Homo sapiens: one gene and its partner. The protein of the gene in region 2 purifies or fractionates together with the protein of the main gene of each other region. This does not show direct contact. Each region holds a gene or a part of one and is shown on either strand. Other genes may lie near its edges.

The links.
Region 1: the proteins of RAP1A (region 2) and PCTP fractionate together in Homo sapiens (co-fractionation; one large-scale study listed by BioGRID). This does not show direct contact.

The regions. Positions count from the first base shown.
Region 1 is NC_000017.11:55,764,551-55,768,050, forward strand, and holds part of PCTP (phosphatidylcholine transfer protein), read left to right. Parts: intron 1-2,784; coding exon 2,785-2,902; intron 2,903-3,500. UniProt on the Homo sapiens protein: Catalyzes the transfer of phosphatidylcholine between membranes. Binds a single lipid molecule.
Region 2 is NC_000001.11:111,626,289-111,629,788, forward strand, and holds part of RAP1A (ras-related protein Rap-1A precursor), read left to right. Parts: intron 1-1,181; exon of another isoform or gene 1,182-1,275; intron 1,276-3,500. UniProt on the Homo sapiens protein: Counteracts the mitogenic function of Ras, at least partly because it can interact with Ras GAPs and RAF in a competitive manner. Together with ITGB1BP1, regulates KRIT1 localization to microtubules and membranes.

The DNA.
Region 1 (3,500 bases), on a different chromosome or scaffold from region 2:
TCACATGCTTTTAGAGCTGGAAGATTCTTATGGATTCATTTTCAATTTTACATTCATTTTTTGCCAGGTACTTTCACATACATCTGAGATTCCTAAACCGGGATGTATTTATCCCTAGGTTATACCACCCAAGCTAGAAGACCCTTAAAGCTTCAGGATCTCTAGAAAGATTCAGCATGTTTATTCCTTGACTTCCCCTCAGGCCATGGCACAGTGTTTACAGAGAGGGCTTCATTCATGCATGATTAACCAGTAACACGGCCTTAGCACATGGATGCAAGAGTTCATCCAAAAGTTTATGTTCGTTCATTTGTTTCTTTGCCTTTGTGTTGAAATTAATCTAATAGCCATTGCTTTAATTTTAATAATAGAGCCTTTAGGCAAAGCTGAGGGTCAGGAATTGTAAATTGCCACCGTACAGAGAGTGAAATGTGTGATGGGGCAACTCTAGGCCAGGACCCTCATGGACAAGAATATGGCTTACCAAGGAAACAAGGGAACTCTCTTGTACTTTGGAATCTAGAAAGGCCTTTTCCCAAATCAAAGGAACTTATATGATTTGAAGCAGATTTCTTTTGTTTTTCATTTTCAGTCTTTTATACAGAATCAAAAAGAAGCAGTTGTTGAAAAATTCTGTCTTGGAATTGATAAAACAATGTGTTGGGTTTCACTATGCCACATGGCTATTTAAAATATAACCTCTCTCGAGAACTGTAGCTGCCTATGTGACACCCTTACTTGGATGCTTAATAAACATCTTAAACTCAACTTGTTCAAAAGAGAACTCTTAATTACCCCAAAAGCCCACCAATCACCTCTTCTCCAAGTTTTTTTTCTGTCTTAGAAGATGGCATTCCCATCTGCCCAACTTGGGTTATGAAAGTTATCCTTGATTCTTTGCTTTCCCTTTCCCCAGGATCTATCAGGAATTCCTTTTTACTTTACCTCCAAAATATATCCTTAAATCACTGACTCCTCGCCATCACTGTTGTTACTTCCCTGTTCAAATCACCATCATTTCTTATCTGAACTATTGCACTGGTCTTCTCACCCATCTCCTTGTTCTCTGATGATCTATTTTCTACCAAGCAGCAAGAATCACCTTTAAAAAATTAATTTGATTGCGTCATTCTTAAACTGAATTACGAATCAGATCTGGTCATCCCTCTGTTTAAAGCCATCCATTAGTTTTCCATAGCAATGAGAATAAAATCTTTACCTCTTACCCTGGTTTACAAAGTCCTTGGGGTCCAGCCCTGACAAACTCTCTAACCTCAGCTCCTGCCACTCTCTCTTTTATCCAGAGTTCTCCAGACCCCAGGTTCTTTAAAGATGCCAGCCCACCAATCTGAGGACCTTCCTTCTACCAGGAACGGGCTTTTCCTATCTTCCTATGGCTGGCTTCTTCCAACATTTGGAACAAGATGCTCTGATAAATGTTAACTCTCATAGAGGCCTTTCCTGATCACCTGATTACATAGATGTCCTCCCCATCCCCGCCCTTGCAAGGCATCATTTATCACACAACTCTTCTTACCCTATTTAAATTACCTAGATGGCACTTATAGCTATCTCTAGCACTGCTGCCTACCTGAATTTAAGATCTCTGAGAGCAGGGCCTGCACCTGCTTTTTTATCATTGTGTCACCAAGACCACAGAGGAGGTCAGTGTTTGGTGTGGCATGAACGTCGTCATCAGCTGCTTTTCTTTTTTTTTTTTTTTATTATACTTTAAGTTTTAGGGTACATGTGCACAATGTGCAGGTTAGTTACATATGTATACATGTGCCATGCTGGTGTGCTGCACCCATTAACTCGTCATTTAGCATTAGATATATCTCCTAATGCTATCCCTCCCCCCTCCCCCCACCCCACAACAGTCCCCAGAGTGTAATGTTCCCCTTCCTGTGTCCATGTGTTCTCATTGTTCAATTCCCACCTATGAGTGAGAATATGTGGTGTTTGGTTTTTTGTTCTTGTGATAGTTTACTGAGAATGATGATTTCCAATTTCATCCATGTCCCTACAAAGGACATGAACTCGTCATTTTTTATGGCTGCATAGTATTCCATGGTGTATATGTGTCACATTTTCTTAATCCAGTCTATCATTGTTGGACATTTGGGTTGGTTCCAAGTCTTTGCTATTGTGAATAGAGCCGCAGTAAACATATGTGTGCATGTGTCTTTATAGCAGCATGATTTATAGTCCTTTGGGTATATACCCAGTAATGGGATGGCTGGGTCAAATGGTATTTCTAGTTCTAGATCCCTGAGGAATCGCCACACTGACTTCCACAATGGTTGAACTAGTTTACAATCCCACCAACAGTGTAAAAGTATTCTTATTTCTCCACATCCTCTCCAGCACCTGTTTTTTCCTGACTTTTTAATGATTGCCATTCTAACTGGTGTGAGATGGTATCTCATTGTGGTTTTGATTTGCATTTCTCTGATGGCCAGTGATGGTGAGCATTTTTTCATGTGTTTTTTGGCTGCATAAATGTCTTCTTTTGAGAAGTATCTGTTCTTGTCCTTCACCCACTTTTTGATGGGGTTGTTTGTTTTTTTCTTGTAAATTTGTTGGAGTTCATTGTAGATTCTGGATATTAGCCCTTTGTCAGATGAGTAGGTTGTGAAAATTTTCTCCCATTTTGTAGGTTGCCTGTTCACTCTGATGGTAGTTTCTTTTGCTGTGCAGAAGCTCTTTAGTTTAATTATGTGGAATGCAGCTTTCTCTCAACTTGGGAACCAATAGACATTTCTACCTGTTCTGTTTTTATAGAAGACTGGACTTTATGAGTATAAAGTCTTTGGTGTTCTGGAGGACTGCTCACCAACTCTACTGGCAGACATCTATATGGACTCAGATTACAGAAAACAATGGGACCAGTATGTTAAAGGTGAGTGATGCTTGCTTTTCTTTTTTTTTTAGACGTACTTTCACTTTTGTAGCCCAGGGTGAAGTGCAAAGGTAGGATCTCAGCTCACCGCAATCTCCGCCTCCTGGGTTCAAGCGATTCTCCTGCCTCAGCCTCCTGAGTAGCTGGGACTACAGGCGCCCGCCACCACACCTGGCTAATTTTTGTATCTTTAGTAGAGACAGGGTTTCTCCATGTTAGTCAGGCTGGTCTTGAACTTCTGACCTCAGGTGATCCGCTTGCCTTGGCCTCCCAAAGTGCTAGGATTACAGGCATGAGCCGCTGCACCCAGTGCTTTTTTTTTTTTTTTTTTTTGATCATTAAAAAGTAGATCTATTCTGACCAGATGCAGTGACTCACGCCTGTAATCCCAGCACGTGGGGAGGCTGAGGCGGACAGATCACTTGAGGCCAGGAGTTTGAGACCAGCCTGGCCAACATGGTGAAATCCCGTCTCTACTAAAAATACAAAACTTAGCTGGGCATGGTGGCGCATGCCTATAGTCCCAACTACTTAGGAGGCTGAGGCACTAAGAATTGCTTGAACCCAAGAAGCAGAGGTTGCAGTGAGCCAAGACTGT
Region 2 (3,500 bases):
TAAGAATTGTTTGCTTTACTGCCTGTTTTACTTCAGTCCAAGACTTATTTTTTGTAAATAGCTTTTCTGCATATGTATACATACACACACACACACACACACACACACACACATATGCATGTATATACACACGTTGTAGGGAAGTTGTTTCCTGGTTCAGCTAGCAATTTCAATTCTCTGTTTAACGTCAGAAGTTGTTTTGTAGAATGGGATGTTAATATTTTTTTCTACACTGATTAAAATCATCCTTTGCCACTAAAGTCAAGTATCTGCTAGGACAGAAATGTGCAAATAGCATGCGTAAATGTGCATTTTTAGTGACTGTTGTTAGCTTGACAGTTTTATTTTCAAGATCCTCTTCTCTCCCGACCTAATTAATTATGATGTGTTTATAAGGCAACAATAATATATTTAGTTAGTTTGCAAAATGAGAACAATTTTTCTGGTTTTTCCATTTTTGCATGTTTTGAGTTTGGATTAATTGGACTTGTATTATTCTCAGTAGACATATATAATAAAATAGTCCATTTAACTGTGATTCTTTCTCTTGGAACATTGGCTGACTTTTAGATAGTGAGCCTTGTGCAGTTTCATAAATACAGGTACTACTGAGTTTTGGATGACATTCTTTACACAACCTAAAAGTAAAGGTGAGCATAATAGAAGCTGGAAACAAGCTGCTGGGCATAATAGAAGCTGGTAACAAGTCTGACGTTTTCTTTGCACTAGGAAATGTATTTCTTATTCCAAGTAATATGCCCTTGTTAGGTTCAGGATCTTTTTCAGTGGTTATAACTGCTTAAACATTTTTTTTTCTGTTTAAAGTAATTCATGTTATACTGTGGCAAATTTTGAAAAAAATGTTAAGTGTAAAGAATAAATTGAAAACATCCATGATCCTATCATCCAGAAAAAATTACTACTGATACTTTAATATACATTTTTCCAGTTTATTCCTTGCATGTACGGATTTTTTATTTATTTTTTTTACGAAACTTAGAATTATAACTTTATATATACTGTTTTGATCATACTTTTTTTTCCTGAATGGGATGTTGGTCTCCTAGTTTGAGACTTTAAAGTTGATTCTTTATAATATTACTGTTTTAAATAACACTGGGACAGACATTTTTTGTACATGTATCTTTGATTGCATCTCTGTTTTTTTTTTCTTCCTGTAGGATAGATTCCCAGAAGTGGGATAACTGGATCAGAGGGTGATTACCCTGTGTATAAGAGTATGTGTCTCACTGCACCTTCAATGGCATTGAGTAGGTCAGTTTTTACAATCTTTGCCAATGTGATAGATATCTGTTACATTCTTGGGTGGTAATAGCAGAAATCCTCATATTATTAATAATCTGTAAAACCATCATAGTGTATGAAAGAAATTTGCAATTGTCCTGAAATGAGTTTCTTTAAAAATATTTTAGGTAAAAGTAATCTGTGACCAAAAAAAAAATTACTGATTAAAGTTGGAATTTCAGCATTTTTTTTTTTGGAGAGCTAGAATTTTAATGTTCTTTTATTAAAATGACAAACATGAGAAAGCTTGTTTTATAGTATGTAATAAATATAAATATTATGTAAAACTAAATTATTTCAGATAGATGAGGGGGGTAGTCACATGGTTCTGACTTTGAAAAAACAAAAAAAAAATCTGTGAATGTTTAGAGCAGTAGCTCTGGAGTTGGGCAGCCTGGGTTTGTGTCCTTGCTTTGCCACTTACTAAGTACATGATTGGAGGCAACCTGCTAAATATGTGTATGATTTGATTTTTCTGAACCTTGGCTTCCTTATTTTTATAAAAGGAGAATAATATCTACCCCATAGGATTGTTGAGAGGATTAGAATAATGTGTAAGACCACTTGGCACATAGGTATTTAATAAAAACTAGCTATTTTCGTTAAATTTGTTTTTTCTGCCAGTCTCCTCAAGGGCAAGAAATATCTCATTTTTGTGTTTCTGTTTACATGAATAAATACTGAAATGCAAATGGGCTGTGGTGAGCAGTGGCAGCAGGAGGGGAATGGTGGACATTCTTTGTGGTAGGAATGGCATGTGCCAAGATAGAAAGAAAGTTCAGGAGAAGTTGGAGGACAGGTGATTAATTTGACAGAAGCCTAGGCTTTTGTATAGTTAGAAAATATGGAGATAAGGGAGAATTATGGAGATTGGGGCTAGACTTTTAAGCCATTGAATGCTACGTTGATAAGTGTAGACTTTTTCAGGAGTACAAGCTTTGGTATGTGGAAAATGACTTGATAAAAGCATTCATCGAAAAGCAGATGAATTCGCTTGTAGAGTAAAGAATGAATTGAGGAAGGAAGAGGTTGAAGACAGGGAATCTGGATTAATAGTAACACAGGTAAGGTAAGATCTGAGGGTTTAAAGGAAAACAAAAGGGAGGGTTTTGGAGGAAGTGCTTAGGCTTCATGTTTGTGAAGATCTGTACAACCAATTTGGAGATCAAATTCAAAAGAAACAGCCTAGGCTTACATGCAGTTAGGCAGCCTTTGAGAGAAGATGGGACTCAGTACACTTTGGTTGTTACTATTGTTTTTTTAAAAATTGAAGGATAAAACATTCCAAGATTCCTATCATTTCGTCAGTAAAAAGCATATATTTATGCTTTTAAAAATATATATGTACAATCTCCTGCAGTAATTTTATTTAGTTAGCATTTTGAGTTCTTGGTTAACAGGATATCCTCGCTTTTAGACTTTGTATTTCTGGAGCTATTACCTTAAAACTCTTCACTGTAAGGTGAAATTCTTCTGCATGTGGTTTTTGTAGCATTTGTGATTGCTGCAGGACTTTAAAAAAACCAGTCGTGTGAGCAGAGGTGATGAGAAGTGAAATACAGACTTCTTGTTTGTTAAGCAGCTTCTAAGTAAAATATAGGAGCAAAAAAATGGGAAATTGTGTGTATGATGTTTAGAAAAACATTACTTTTAGTGTTCCTGTTTTCTCTCTCAGCCCTGAATTTTCCTAATTAAAAAAAGAGAGTTTGCAGATGCCATTTTTAGTCATTCTAGAACCTGACTAGAGCTCTACTCATACTTTCCACTTGACTGAATAATATAAAGCAAGTTAGCCAGAGATTGATATTAATAGTATTTCTTTTTGACTGATAAGTAAACTCACATGAACTGTGAATTGTCTGCTCGGTATCTTCCAATGGAGAAAAGAAGCAACCACCAATTTAAAAAAATACAGGCTTGTGATACTTATAAGGTGTTTGCATTTTTTAAAACAGTGAGTTATCATACCTTTCTTAATGTTTCTTTTAGTTTCCAAATACTGCCTAAATTCAGAAATAAAGTACTTATTATTTTTATTCAAATCTCTTCCCTTTAAAACTATCCTTGAAAATATTTTTAAATTAATAAGCAAATGTAACTCACAGTGCTCGTAGTGTTGGGGATTGTGTGCGTGTGACTTTTTTTTACAAATACTGTGTTTTTCCTGTGTGAATCTGCAAAAGCCCAGATCTGGT